Regions from separate parts of the Homo sapiens genome. Here all the other regions are reported to be linked to region 2. The links are microRNA targets in miRTarBase. Many come from high-throughput screens and were not tested one by one. Region 2 holds a microRNA gene; each other region holds the end of a gene's coding sequence. Distances are from middle to middle.

Region 1 (3,202 bases), not on the chromosome of region 2:
TGGTCAGCCTTAACATTCATAAAGGATCTGTTTGATACTCAATCCATACCGGGAAAGGCTAACAAATACTTTTAAAAATGTTATTAAGCAAAAATGCTGGTGTAAGATCAACAATTCTTTCAAAATTGACACCCAACTAAATACAGTTAGGGAGCAAATTCTTTTTGAGATTAGGGCCAATATTTAGTATTAAATGACTTCAGTTATTGTTGACATTGTACTTTTACCTTTGTATGTGGTCAGCAAACAAGTTCCACAAGTTTAGAGAGAATCAAGAATATATGCTGCATTCTCTAAATAATGTAAAATAGCTAAATTCATGCTATCTTCCACCCAAAGATGTGAAGTTTTGAGCAATTTTTAAATCCCACTGGGATTTAAATATGTGACTATTGCTTGTGCATATCTAATAATTTCTAGTCTCTTTATTTAAAATCAAGTAGCCTCTTCCTCATTGGCATCATTGTTTGTTTCAAGCAGTACTGTCCTCCTATGTTTTTGGATAGTCTCACCTCACCCTTAACAGCAAGCAGTACGTCTGTCACCACCACCAGCTCCCATGAAAGCAGTACTCATGTTAGTTCATCCAGCAGCAGGAGTGAGACAGGGGTCATAACCAGCAGTGGAAGTAACATTCCTGACATCATCTCATTGGACTAAAGGAGGACTCACTTGATTCTGGGAATCATTCATCAGAACTGCTTTTTCTTGGATCTCTAGTCTGTGGAAACGTTCTTTTTTTTTTTTTTTTAATAATTTGGTATTTATTGAAAGTCAGATGGATTCTTTTGCTTTCTGAGGGGTGAACACAGAAGACTGCAACAAGAACCAAATGACATGCAAGGATTTTTCTTAATTATGCTGTACTCTCAGCATCAGATACATTCAACCATAACTGTATCTTCCTGAGAGATGGATTTCACTTTCATACGTTAATGGATGGAGTCTACAAATCAGTGAAAAAAGTTTTTGTTAAAATAAAGAGCAATAAAATTATGTAAATATTCAAGTAACCTTTTTTCTAATTAAAAAAAAAATTGTAATCACTGATTCTAGAATGACAGCAACTTCTGTTTAACCTTACGTGAAGGAAAAAAAATATATGGAAAGAACTTAATGTTTGCTGAATGAGTCCTTTCCATGGAGATTTGCTCTGTTTCATTGAAGTAATGAAGTTTCAGTACGTGGCCAAAGCTTGGATTCCACTTTTCGTCCTGCATTTCCACTTTTCTTCGTGATTGCATCAAAGAAAAATGGCATTCGTGTTACTTGGTTTTTTTCCTGCTTATCATTTACACTTTGACGTTGTTTGCTAATGAGTGCTGTGTGAAGTTCTGGGATTTGGCTACTCTTCATTGGTGATTATGTTTAAAAGCACTATGCAGATTCTGCCCTGACATAAAGTGTGTTATTATGTTTTTAGTAATTGTACATTTTTCATTCTAGAGTTTTCTATAAATTTGAGGCTTGCCTTCTCAAAAAAGAAACTATGCAGCCATTGAATGAAATGTCTTTGGGGTACGGTGTGACTGGAATGTTTGTTAGAAATTTGTTCACACTATCAAATATTGATATCTTGGAGCCAGCAGAAGAGCAGATTTTGGGAGGTGGTAATAACAAAATTTAATTTCTTCCCAACAACTTAATTTTCTCATTTATTTTACAGAATAGTAGTGAAATATTTGATGAAACTTTGTATTTTGGTAGCACTACATAGAAAATGTGTTTTAGATTTATGATGATCATATTTCTCACCAATGTAATTTCAGTCTCAGCAGTGATTTTCAAACTTAGGGAAAGGGACAGCATTAGATTTTTTTTTTTTTTCATTTTTTTAAAATGATATCTTACCTGAAACTACAAACGACAAAAGAGAATTAGAAATGTTTGAATTAAAGTGAAGAAGGGTTGGGGGAGATGGGCCTGAACCCACTTCCTGTCTCAATCCATGCTACCCCAAACACTCCAGGGAACCTCTGAGGTTTTATTGGGTGCACTTTGAAAATTTCTCTTCTATAGTGTGTTTGTTTGATTTTAAATCACAGAGAAAACTGGGTTTTACTCTTAGAGAAACATTTTCATCCAGTTTTTTAGTTTGCTTCATTTGACTTCCTAAATCATTTTTGAGTTCACAAGGATTTGGTACTTTTCTGTTTAGCTTTCTCTCTCTAAGCTTTATCTACCTTAAAAACAAAGTCCTTTTTTTAATGGCCAGTCCAACCAATTGATTTCTCAAACTGAAGTGCCCAGGTGTGGACTCATCAATTTCCGTTAGAATAGGGACATCCTACTTAAGAGTTGGTGCAGCTCCAAGGAGCTGACTTGTCCTTGCTTGGGGTTTTTTTTTTTTTTCTTTCACCTTCTCAAGTTTCCATGGCCTTTGTGTGTTCTTTTTATGTTGATTTAAATTCATATGGTTTTCCACAAATCCCTTCTTTGGCTACATTGTCTCCTTATTCAATGGATTATCCCTTTGTGGGGGCTGCTTATTTTAAAGATGTTGGGGGGGAAACAAACCCAAATCTACGAGCAGTAGTTGCACATAGTTGCCAGTTTTACCTTCTTAGTCATTAGATTTCCAAACCATGTTGCAGTTTTTTGGTCCAGATATAGTATTTCTTTCTAATAAAGTTTTATGTTGCTGCTCTAAATACAGATGCAATATTTATTGACTCTGTAATCAGATAGAAAAAACTTAACTTGGTTTGTGTGGTATGACTTATAAAGAAATGATGTATATTTGTTATTTTGTTACCCTTTAGATTGTCAGAGACTCCCCCAATTTAATCAACAAAGTTTTATAAAGTAAATGAAAATATTAATAGAAATTAGTTTATTTACTTGGTTCTTATAACTGATATCTCTGTGCTTTTATAATTGTGATTTGTTTTTTTGTTTTTTTTTCTATTTTCTGTGAACAGTTTTAATGTTCGGTTTTGGTGTTTTACACTGAAATTACATATAAATTTTTAATTTATTTCATACAGGCAACTTGCATTTTAAAAAATACACTTTGAAGTTTATCATCTTGAAATTGGGGCTTACGTTGTTTATCTGTCTTGAGCATTAGTACTTTATGACTTTGGCCTTATGGCAACATCATGATTATTAATCCGTCAGCCTTTAATGTGGTCACTGTTTCTTATCCAGACCCTGACTTTCTAGTAGTTTATTTTGCTAGCCCAGATTTCTGCTTAACCAA
Region 2 (3,202 bases):
CCCAGGCCCTGGCTGTCCTGAGCAGGGGTGCTCAGGTAAGGTGGGGTCAGGAGGCACCGCAATGGGGCTGATCAGCAGCAGTCATGGAGGCTGTGAGAGGCAGGGAGAGAGCACCCCAGGACCTCCTTCTCCAGGCCACGCACTCCCTATGTGGGCGCCTTAATACCTGCTAGACCTATTTGTCTGGGAGCTGCAGGAGCCTTGCAGTTGATTGTGGAGCCCTGACAGGGGCGTTTCAGAGAAAGTCAGGAGCTGCCTTCGTGTGTCTGGATGAAGGGGCCACGGCAAGATCCTCCTGGCTCAGGGGTTCACACCTGGGCACACATGCAGGATTCTGCAGGCCAGTGTGCACCGAGCCTCCAACTTGTGCCTCCCTACTTCAGGTGACCAGAAGTCAGCAGCTTCCCAGAAGCCCCGAAGCCGGGGCATCCTCCACTCACTCTTCTGCTGTGTCTGCCGGGATGATGGGGAGGCCCTGCCTGCTCACAGCGGGGCGCCCCTGCTTGTGGAGGAGAATGGCGCCATCCCTAAGGTGCGTGGGGGCCAGGTGGGGCCACGGGGGCACCTGGACTCAGTCTTCAGGGCTTTAGGGGAAGGGGCTCCTGACTGAGCTTTTCAGGATGGACTTGCAGACCTGAAAGGTGCAGAGTAGGAGGGTGGCAGCCTCCCCTGCCAGGCCCTGCCCACTGTGGGGAAACTGAATTCTCCCTCATAAGTGGAAGCTTTTTCCTACCTTGGTTTTTAGAGAGGTCTCAAAGAGCCAAGAGGCCTACCCAAGCCCTAGAGCTGGCAGGGGCAAAGCTGGGAAGGGGGAAGTATCTGTTCCTGGGGCCTGGGGTTCCTCTGGAGACGGCTAGGGGGAGAAGCCTGCGTGGGAGGAAGGACCAGGCCCGGAGAGAGGCACCCCAGCCAGCCCCGCCCTCCCTACAGCAGACCCCAGTCCAATACCTGCTCCCTGAGGCCAAGGCCCAGGACTCAGACAAGATCTGCGTGGTCATCGACCTGGACGAGACCCTGGTGCACAGCTCCTTCAAGGTGGGCCCTGCTCAACAGCCCTCAGCCCGGGTCTCGGGGGGCATCCCCCACCCTGGCCTGGGAGGGAGGTGTGTGCTGGACCCCATGCCCTGGGGCTCCTCCTCCAACTCCAGCAGCTCTTTTCCCCCCACAGCCAGTGAACAACGCGGACTTCATCATCCCTGTGGAGATTGATGGGGTGGTCCACCAGGTGAGGGCCAGGAAGAGGCAGTGGTGGGCTTGGCATCTGCCTCCAGACCCTAGGCTCTTCCCACCAATCCGGAGCGCCTCGGATGGGAATTGGATACATGTGGAATGTCAGAGGCCCAGAGAGGGTGTGAGACTTGTCCCAAAGTCACACAGAACCTCAAGGGCTTGTGCTGACTCCAAGCCTGCAGAGTGGGCTCCTCCTCTAGGCTCCCCCGTGCTGTGCTCCCTCGCCCCACCCTGCCCGGGACCCAGTTCAAGTAATTCAGGATAGGTTGTGTGCTGTCCAGCCTGTTCTCCATTACTTGGCTCGGGGACCGGTGCCCTGCAGCCTTGGGGTGAGGGGGCTGCCCCTGGATTCCTGCACTAGGCTGAGGTTGAGGCAGGGGAAGGGATTGGGAATTAGGGACCTCGTGAGGTAGGACTGGCCAGTGGAGTGGAAGTTTTGATCGTTTTCTGGCGGGGGGTGGGTACAGTTTCCCCAGCAGTGGTCAGGGTAGCTGGCCAAGCGGAGCCTGCGGGCCCAGTCTCCTTCCTGTGCGCCTCTGCCTCCCTGGCCCATGCCCTGCCAGCCCTCGGCCACCCCCACACTGCCCCACTGGCCCGCAGCCCCCTCACTGGCCCGCCCCCCAGGTCTACGTGTTGAAGCGTCCTCACGTGGATGAGTTCCTGCAGCGAATGGGCGAGCTCTTTGAATGTGTGCTGTTCACTGCTAGCCTCGCCAAGGTGAGCCCCACAGGGGTCCCGGGGCAACCCTGCCCTCCTACCTACCTCCCGCATGCAGCCCAATGAACCTGCGGGCCCCAGGATGACCCACCTCCTGCTCCCAGTACGCAGACCCAGTAGCTGACCTGCTGGACAAATGGGGGGCCTTCCGGGCCCGGCTGTTTCGAGAGTCCTGCGTCTTCCACCGGGGGAACTACGTGAAGGACCTGAGCCGGTTGGGTCGAGACCTGCGGCGGGTGCTCATCCTGGACAATTCACCTGCCTCCTATGTCTTCCATCCAGACAATGCTGTGAGTGCGGGCTGGACTGGGACTGGGACAGGAGCTGAGACCCAGGAAGGGGTCAGTCCATTCAGGCCACCTTGGCCTCTTGGATCCCCAGTTGGGGGGTGGGTGCCCTCCCAGTCCTTCCTGCATTCATTGCCTGTGCCTGCCGCCCACTCCCCTCATCCACCTGCCCTGTAGCCATATGGTCTTTTCCCCTCGCACAAAGCAGAGCATCTGCCATGCACAGGGGCCCCCACAGGGCAACGGAGTTTGGAAAGTTTCAATTTTTCGAATTGCCAGTTGTGACCTACTGATGGCCCACAGAATTAATTTAGTGGGTTCTGATTGGGAATTTTAACAAAATGAAATAGAATAGAAAATATCCGGTCGGGTGCAGTGGCTCATGCCTGTAATCCCAGCACTTTGGGAAGCTGAGGTGGGCAGGTAGCTGAGCCCAGTAGTTCAAGACCAGCCTCGGCAACATAGTGAAACCTTATGTCTACAAAAAATACAAAAACTAGCCAGGCGTGGTGGCGCATGCCTGGAGTCCCGGCTATGCAGAAGGCTGAGGTAGGAGTATCACTTGAGCCCTGGAGGCAGAGGCTGTGGTGAGCCAAGATTGTGCCACTGCACTCTAGCCTGGGCAACAGAGCAAGACCCTGCCTCAAAAAAAAAAAAAAGTATCCGAGTGCTTCGCACAGATAAGGTTAGGAATTGTGAAGCTTTTGCATTGTTACGTTATAAATGTGTTTTCCTGGGGATTGCTGTCAAAAAAGTTTGAACACTGTGGGTGAGGGGTTTTCAGAAACTGCATGATCTGAGTAGTGGCTACATAGGGCTGGCCTGGAAATTCTGCACCCAGGACCACCTGCCCCCCTCATCTTCCTACACCCACTTCCCCAGGTACCGGTGGCCTCGTGGTTTGACAACATGAGTGACACAGAGCTCCACGACCTCCTCCCCTTCTTCGAGCAACTCAGCCGTGTGGA
Region 3 (3,200 bases), not on the chromosome of region 2:
CACCGTCCTTTTCCAAGCATGAACAGTGGGACAGGCCCCAGGAGATGGGTGCCAGGGAGCAGAAGGGGGAGCCTTCAGGCCTGGACAAAACGAAACACCCCCCCAAAAAAAGAAAACCCATGACAAAGCTCCCCTGGGGGCCTCTGAGTGCACAGGCCTCTCCATCTGCCCAGCACCCCACCACCTGCAGTCCACCTCCCCGTAAGCCATGCTTGCCTCCCAGCCCCAACCACATTTGGGGAGTTTGGGGAATCCAGTTCATCCTCTACTTTTGGGGGCAGCCAGCCAAGCCCACTGCAAGAGCTGACCGGCACCCCTCCACTTTGTCCTCCACCCCAGTGACCTGACGGTGAAGTTCTGGAGTGTCCGGCGGTTACCCCACAGCGGCCCACCCTAGGAGTGAGGTCAGAGGGATGCCCCCGGACCCTCGACCCCAGCAGCCTGGACACCATGGAAGGGAAGCTGTGACCCGGCCGATGGGGCCAGCTGCTCTGGGGACAGAGGGCGTGGCCCCCTCTCCTGCCCTCCTCCCTCTCCCTTGGCCTTCCCACAGGACACTGTTCCCTCATCCCTCCCCTGCCTCTCAGGAGCCTCTGGGTGAGAGAGAGGCTGGGGAGGAAATTAAGCTGTGAAGCCAAAGGGCATTATCCCTTCTTGTTCCCCTCCTGGCAGTCGTGGCCACATTGTCTCCTGCTGAACCGGCTCTGCCCCTTTCTCAGGCCTTTGGCCCAGTGGTGGAGCCCTGTGGGGAGGTGCAGCAGCCTGGCCCCATCCCACCCTTCCGAGGAGCTGGCCTCCCCGCTTCTCCCAGCCCAGCCTCTAGAGCCACTGCACCTGCCTCTGAGCCCAAAAAGATAAGTCCTCAGGTAGCTAAGGAAACCAGGTGTGGGCGGCTGGGCCTTGCAGCTAACCCTTAACCCTCTGGCAACCCGCAGATAGCCCCAACTGGCCCCAACAGTTCCCTGGGGTCCCTTTTGGATGGGGCCAAGGTGGAGCTGCTAGAAAGATTCCTTTGGGGAGATGGTCAGAAATACTTCAGTTATTTATTATTTTGTTATTTTTATTTTTTGCTGTTGCCTCCTGGAAACGGACTTGAAGTTTCTTCCCCTATATTCTTTCCCTCAGCTCTTGGGGGCCAGAAATCCCAAAGGGAGTCCGCTGCCCCGGCCCTCCAGGGCCGCCTCCTCTGTTTGCTTTGCAGAGGAGGGAACTGCTCCTTCGACTCTGCAGCTCAGGCCTGTCCCCGACACAGCCCCCAGGGAGTCTTCTAGCTACCCCTGGCCTCTAGGCCGCCTGACGCTCAGTGCCTTCCTCCGTTCCGGGGCCTGGCACCCGTGCCGGGCAGCCTTACACCAGCCATGCCCGCGGCACCACATGTGTCTTCTCACTCGCGAGGTCTTGTGCCCAGCGCCCCCGGGAAGGCGGGGGCGCTCACCCCACAGCCCAGGCCCCGGGGTTCTGCCCCACAGTCCTGCGTGGGCCACGTAGGAAGCAGCATGGGGGCTGTGTCTGCTGGGAGGTGGCTTGGATGGGGAGGACAGCCCGGCACCCTGACCCCCGCCCCTCCCCAGCCCTGCAGTCCCCCACTGGGCCGGGGAGTCTCTCCAGCTTCTCTCTCTCTGGTTATTCAGGAGACACATTTTCGGCCTTAAAACTGGCATGGAGCGCAGGCCCTCCCTTGCAGAAAATTATCAAGGAAGAGGGAGTTGGCAGAGTTTCTCTGCCCCGGGGCTGGGGACGCGGAGCTCCGGGGAAATTGTTAAATCAGTGTTCTGGCGCCCCCTGTTGGGGGAACTCTGGAATTACAGGAGTGGGCCTTGGGGGGGACTGAGCTCCATCCCTCTCCCCCGCCCCACCCCCACCCAAAGTTGCCCACCCTGTTTTTCCGTTGCATCGCTGGTCTTGTGCTTCCCGCTTCAGTCTGGGAGCCAAGAGCCAGCCCCACCTCCCTTCAGAGGACGCAGTGACTTTTGGACTTTCCAGAGGTGGTTCTGTGTTTCTGCCCTTGGCTCCTCTCCGTCTTGGGCTGGGGCACTTGGAGCCCTCTCCATGTGGCGCCCAGTGTTGGGGGGAGGCAGGCTCCAGTGGAGGCTGAGTGAGGCCTGGTCCCTTCCCCGTGCCCTCCTCGGAGCTGCCACAGAGGCTAAGACGGCTGTCCTGCTGGTGCTGGCCCTGCTGGATGTGGTATTGAAGTCTGGGGCAGCTGATAGCAGGAAGGAGACCCCCTTGGATGCTGGTCTCCTGGGACCTGAACAGTCTGTCAGCAATGGCTGGAAATCCTTCTTCCTCTGGCCACCCCGGGGGTGCCGGGCAACCCCCTTAGCTCTAAGATGTGGCCACAAATCTCTTCCCACTCCTCCCCGCCAACCTGAACAGAAAGTTTTGACCTTGCAACCTGTAAGAAAGAATCCGTCCGCATGACTGTTTACAAGCGATAGAAACACGTAAGACTCTGTCCCCTTGAGCTCCCACCCCCGGGCCGGGGATGCCCCACCTGGGGTGACTGCACTGTAGCTGCAAGGCGTGTTCTTGCACGAAGTGTGATCTTATGGCCCTGCGAGAGGTGCTCATCATCATGCCCATTTTCTGCTGTTTCTGATGGGTCAGCTACCTCACGGCGGGGCCAGCTCTGCTGTCCTGGCAAGTGTCATTGACTCTCTAAACTTGAAGTCCTTCAGGAGCCCTGAGCCCAACATCCATGAGACACCCCGAGTTGTGCTTCATGAGAGTTGGATTCTCTGCCCACTCTTTCAGGGATGTCCAAGGTCCATGTTAGGGGGCAGGCCCCCAGCTCCACTCACTGCACAAGCACCCTAAATGTTGGAAGCACAAAATGGTTGTGATTTGAGCACAATGGCAGGGTCCCGCAGGCAGACTTGACAGGCCCAGGCCCGGGAGGATCCCCCCACGTTGGCTCTGTCCAAAGTGAGATTGGGGGTGCCTGTGTCTGGGACAGGGGGCTGCCCTTGCTCAGACCAGGCCTTGGCTCATGGCTTGTCCTAATTCTGGGACTCGTCATCTTACTTCTTGCCCTTCTGTGCCCATCTTAAGACTGGAGGCTGAGCCTTGTCAGGCCCAGCCACATCTTTACGCCATGGGACCAGGAGTAAAGCGCTCTCTAAACCCCGCACCCCAAATCTCTAAACGCCTGAGTTCAGGCTGAGTCCTAGCCCTAGTGAGCCTGAAGAGCTTGGACTGAT
Region 4 (3,202 bases), 83 Mb from region 2:
GTCAAGATGAAAATCATCTTTTCACTCTGGAGAAAAACAGCTCCTTACTGGACTGAGGCTGTCAGACGTAGACTTGGGTCATTGCTGGAAGAAACATAGAAAGCAGCACAGCTCCGAGGTCCTTTTTCATCAGATGTGTAAATATGGCCTTCTCTCTTCAGAGCAGATTGCCTGGCAGTCATCATCCCTCCTGTCTGTCTCCAGCCCGGCTGCTCATGCAGTGTCTCAAGCTTCTTGCATTTGCTGTGTTATGTGGTTTTTGAGTAATCTTAACATATAGCTGACTGCATTACTGAGTAACGTGGGACATTTTCATATCTTTATTATGTTAATTCATCTGTCCTTCAAAAGCATCTGAGTTTAGCATTTGACCTGCTTTTGACTTTAGCATTTGATTCTTTTCCAGGCTGCAGCTATGACTCCACCAGAGGAGGAATTGAAGAGAATGGGCTCCCCAGAGGAAAGAAGGCAGAACTCCGTGTCAGACTTCCCACCCCCTGCTGGCCGGGAATTCATTTTGCGCACCACTGTGCCGCGCCCTGCTCCCTACTCCAAAGCTCTGCCTCAGCGGATGTACAGTGTTCTCACCAAAGAGGACTTTAGACTTGCAGGTGCCTTTTCATCAGATACTTCCTTCTTCTGATTCTTCTAGCATTACTCGTTGGTGGCTTCAGAGACAGTGCTGCCTCCTCCTGAGGGAGGGAAGGTACCAGGGAGAACCTGGGAGGTCCTGGAGAGGGCCCTGTCCAGTTGGGTGATCAGGAATCAAACCAGCATCGGAAAGACTTCCCAGCACCAAGCTTGAGCTGTGTCGTTTCGTGGAGGGGGCAGCGAGGATGGGCTTGAGCTGTTGAGAGATTTCTGCCCTAGAGATGGCCTTTGTATATGGGGGGGTGGTGGGGGGACACAAACACATCAGACACTCCGTCCTCACACTGGCAGGACGGTGTTCATCGCATTCTCTTCTGTGACCAGCCTCTAGGCTAGCGGCTGCATTCGTGGTCTGTGCAAACACTTCGTGGTTCTATATATCAGCAGCAAGTGTGCAAAATAAAGGACCTGTTAACTCAGATTTCTGGATATTTTGGTGGTAGCTTCTAGTCCCAGAATCTGTGTTTTTAAAATACTACATGACATTCTGTCTATTCAATCACCTGGTGGTCATCTTTCTTGTACTAATTAACTGTTGATGAGCATTTTGGATATTCTAGGAGAAAGCCTATAATTTCACATAGTTTCTCTTTTTCATGTAACTGTAACCTAAATGTATTACTTCTGATAAAACTATATATCAAATGTCACTGCAAATTAGTTTTATATCTGTCATGTGAGATTTGTCTTACTTATTTTTCTTTTGGTTGCCATGGAAGTTATGGCCCTGAAAATCGTCTCCCTCCCCTTCTCTTGCTGTACAGCATGCGTTCTCTTTTTGTGGTTGCTGGCTGGGTACTGTATTTAATGAAGTAGAGAATAGCACTTGCAAAAATACAGTCTTGGTACCTAGAGACTGTCATGCAGATAGTATAATTTGGTATATGTGCTAATGCATTGAGTAGAGGATTATTTTAACACACTATTTTGCTTTTGTATTTTAGTTAAAATAATCGATGGGGATGTGTAGCCCCCCCGTGTGAGGATGACATCACCACATTTCTAGTTTCATGGAGCTCAAGATGTCTTGTGTCTGTGTGGCTAGATGGCCTCTGCTTGGTAATCTTATTTTTAGGCCTAAAATTCCCACTTAAATCCAAAGTAAAAATGGTTATACTGAAGCATAAACCTTGCCTGTGTAATTTTAAAAAATTAATAGAGCTGTGCAAACCCTGTTATTTTTGTAAAAAAAAAAAAAAATACATATCTATATATAATATGTGTGTGTGTGTGACATATGCACACGTCTCTGTGTATGTGAAGTAGGGGAGGCCCTGGGGGATGACCTCCCAGCCTTTATGATGCTTTTCTCTATGCTGCTGGACTTCATTCTTACTGGTCCACGCAGATGCAGGCGGCCTGAGGCCAGTGCTGTACCAAGTAGAAGACGGTTCCTAAGGACAGAGTTTGTCTGTTTTCTAACAAAGAAAAATTCTACAAAGGAGAGGTTGGGCGTTACAAAGGCATTGTGAATCTAATAAAAGGAAAGTGTCGCTTTCTGTGGCGTTTTCTTTCATTTTCTCCCGCTGAGGCATTTCAGTCTAATTTCATGTGGTTTTGTGCTGTCTCAGCTCTAATGTTTGCAGCCTGCTGAGCCTAACAAGGCAGTGGTCTCAAGAACATTCTTTGTGCCTTTTTAAAGTACTCCATTTTATTTTTATGATAGTTATGTATTTATTTCACAGATATATTTAAGTACCCACTTTGTGTCAGGTACAGTACAAGCAATGAAGATAAAACAGAAACCAAAACACACTCCCTTACAGGGAAAACTGACACCACGTTGCCACAAAATGTTGAGTATAGTCAACTCTGCTGTGTGGATCGGAGGGCCTGCATTTATCCTACAAATAATTGAATGTAATCCTACATTCATGTATTCATTGGCAGTACGGAGTAATAAATGCAGCAATGTCATAAAGTGTTGTAGGAGTTTCTTCACCCAGGCTTTGAGGATCAGGAAAATTACCCCAGAGGGTGTGATTTTGGGATTGAGACCAGAAGCTGAGTAGGCACTGGGGAAAGCATGGGGGGCGTATGGGAAATGGCTTGCAGAGAACCAGGCATTCCTCCAGCCCTGTGTGCAATGAAATCATGATTTTCATTGTGAAGTGCTTTATTTCTCCACCTCTTCAATCTGGTCTCGGCCATGTCTTTCTTTGGTCAACAGACAGAGACTTGACAAGTCCTTGCACATTGGGGCTTGCCCTCCCTTCTTGCCAGGAGCCTTGAAGCCACTGTGAAGAAGGCCACTCTAGGGTGAGAGTTGGGGCAAAAGGTAACTGACAGGAGGGGGCAGAAAGCGTATTACAAGCAGAGGAACGGAATGGGCAAAATCCCAGAAATAAGGGAAAATGTCTATTTGGGGGGCAGCCAACATTTCTATTTGGCTGAAGTGTGGTATCTAGAGTGGGAAGGGGCAAGAAATGAAGATGGTGAGGTGAACTAAGGCAAGACCAAGAAGTTCGGGGGAAGCCGCAGCTACAAGTTAGGGCTTTGCCTTTGGGGCGGTAGTGAGTCACTGAAGGGTTTTGTGCAGGGGAGTGACATG

What was found. The annotated mature microRNA hsa-miR-26b-5p reads UUCAAGUAAUUCAGGAUAGGU and lies in region 2 at 1,477-1,497, shown strand. An mRNA with a match to its seed (bases 2 to 7 or 8) in the 3' UTR can be bound and repressed. Matches are read on the target gene's strand: a 7mer-m8 pairs with bases 2 to 8, a 7mer-A1 pairs with bases 2 to 7 and ends in A, and an 8mer does both.
Region 1: miRTarBase lists PIAS2 as a target of hsa-miR-26b-5p. The part of its 3' UTR that is shown has no 7-base or 8-base seed match.
Region 3: the mRNA of KIF21B is a reported target of hsa-miR-26b-5p. Seed matches in the 3' UTR shown: 7mer-A1 at 1,091-1,097 and 7mer-A1 at 2,663-2,669.
Region 4: miRTarBase lists RAB3GAP1 as a target of hsa-miR-26b-5p. The part of its 3' UTR that is shown has no 7-base or 8-base seed match.

Annotation. Positions count from the first base shown.
Region 1 is chr18:46,809,891-46,813,092 of GRCh38, reverse strand. It overlaps PIAS2 (protein inhibitor of activated STAT 2), which reads left to right. Exons shown (of 14, transcript NM_004671.5): 14 at 481-3,202. The coding sequence ends at 660. Among named protein-coding and RNA genes, the nearest start is that of ST8SIA5-DT, 54 kb to the right of the region's middle.
Region 2 is chr2:218,401,181-218,404,382 of GRCh38, forward strand. It overlaps MIR26B (microRNA 26b), which reads left to right and starts at 1,466; the gene lies at 1,466-1,542. It overlaps CTDSP1 (CTD small phosphatase 1), which reads left to right. Exons shown (of 7, transcript NM_021198.3): 2 at 384-532; 3 at 931-1,035; 4 at 1,169-1,225; 5 at 1,855-1,947; 6 at 2,052-2,237; 7 at 3,117-3,202.
Region 3 is chr1:200,970,718-200,973,917 of GRCh38, reverse strand. It overlaps KIF21B (kinesin family member 21B), which reads left to right. Exons shown (of 35, transcript NM_001252102.2): 35 at 340-3,200. The coding sequence ends at 397. Among named protein-coding and RNA genes, the nearest start is that of KIF21B, 51 kb to the left of the region's middle. RefSeq lists an enhancer at 2,664-2,843.
Region 4 is chr2:135,168,139-135,171,340 of GRCh38, forward strand. RAB3GAP1 (RAB3 GTPase activating protein catalytic subunit 1) reads left to right here. Exons shown (of 24, transcript NM_012233.3): 24 at 407-2,572. The coding sequence ends at 643. Among named protein-coding and RNA genes, the nearest start is that of SNORA40B, 33 kb to the left of the region's middle.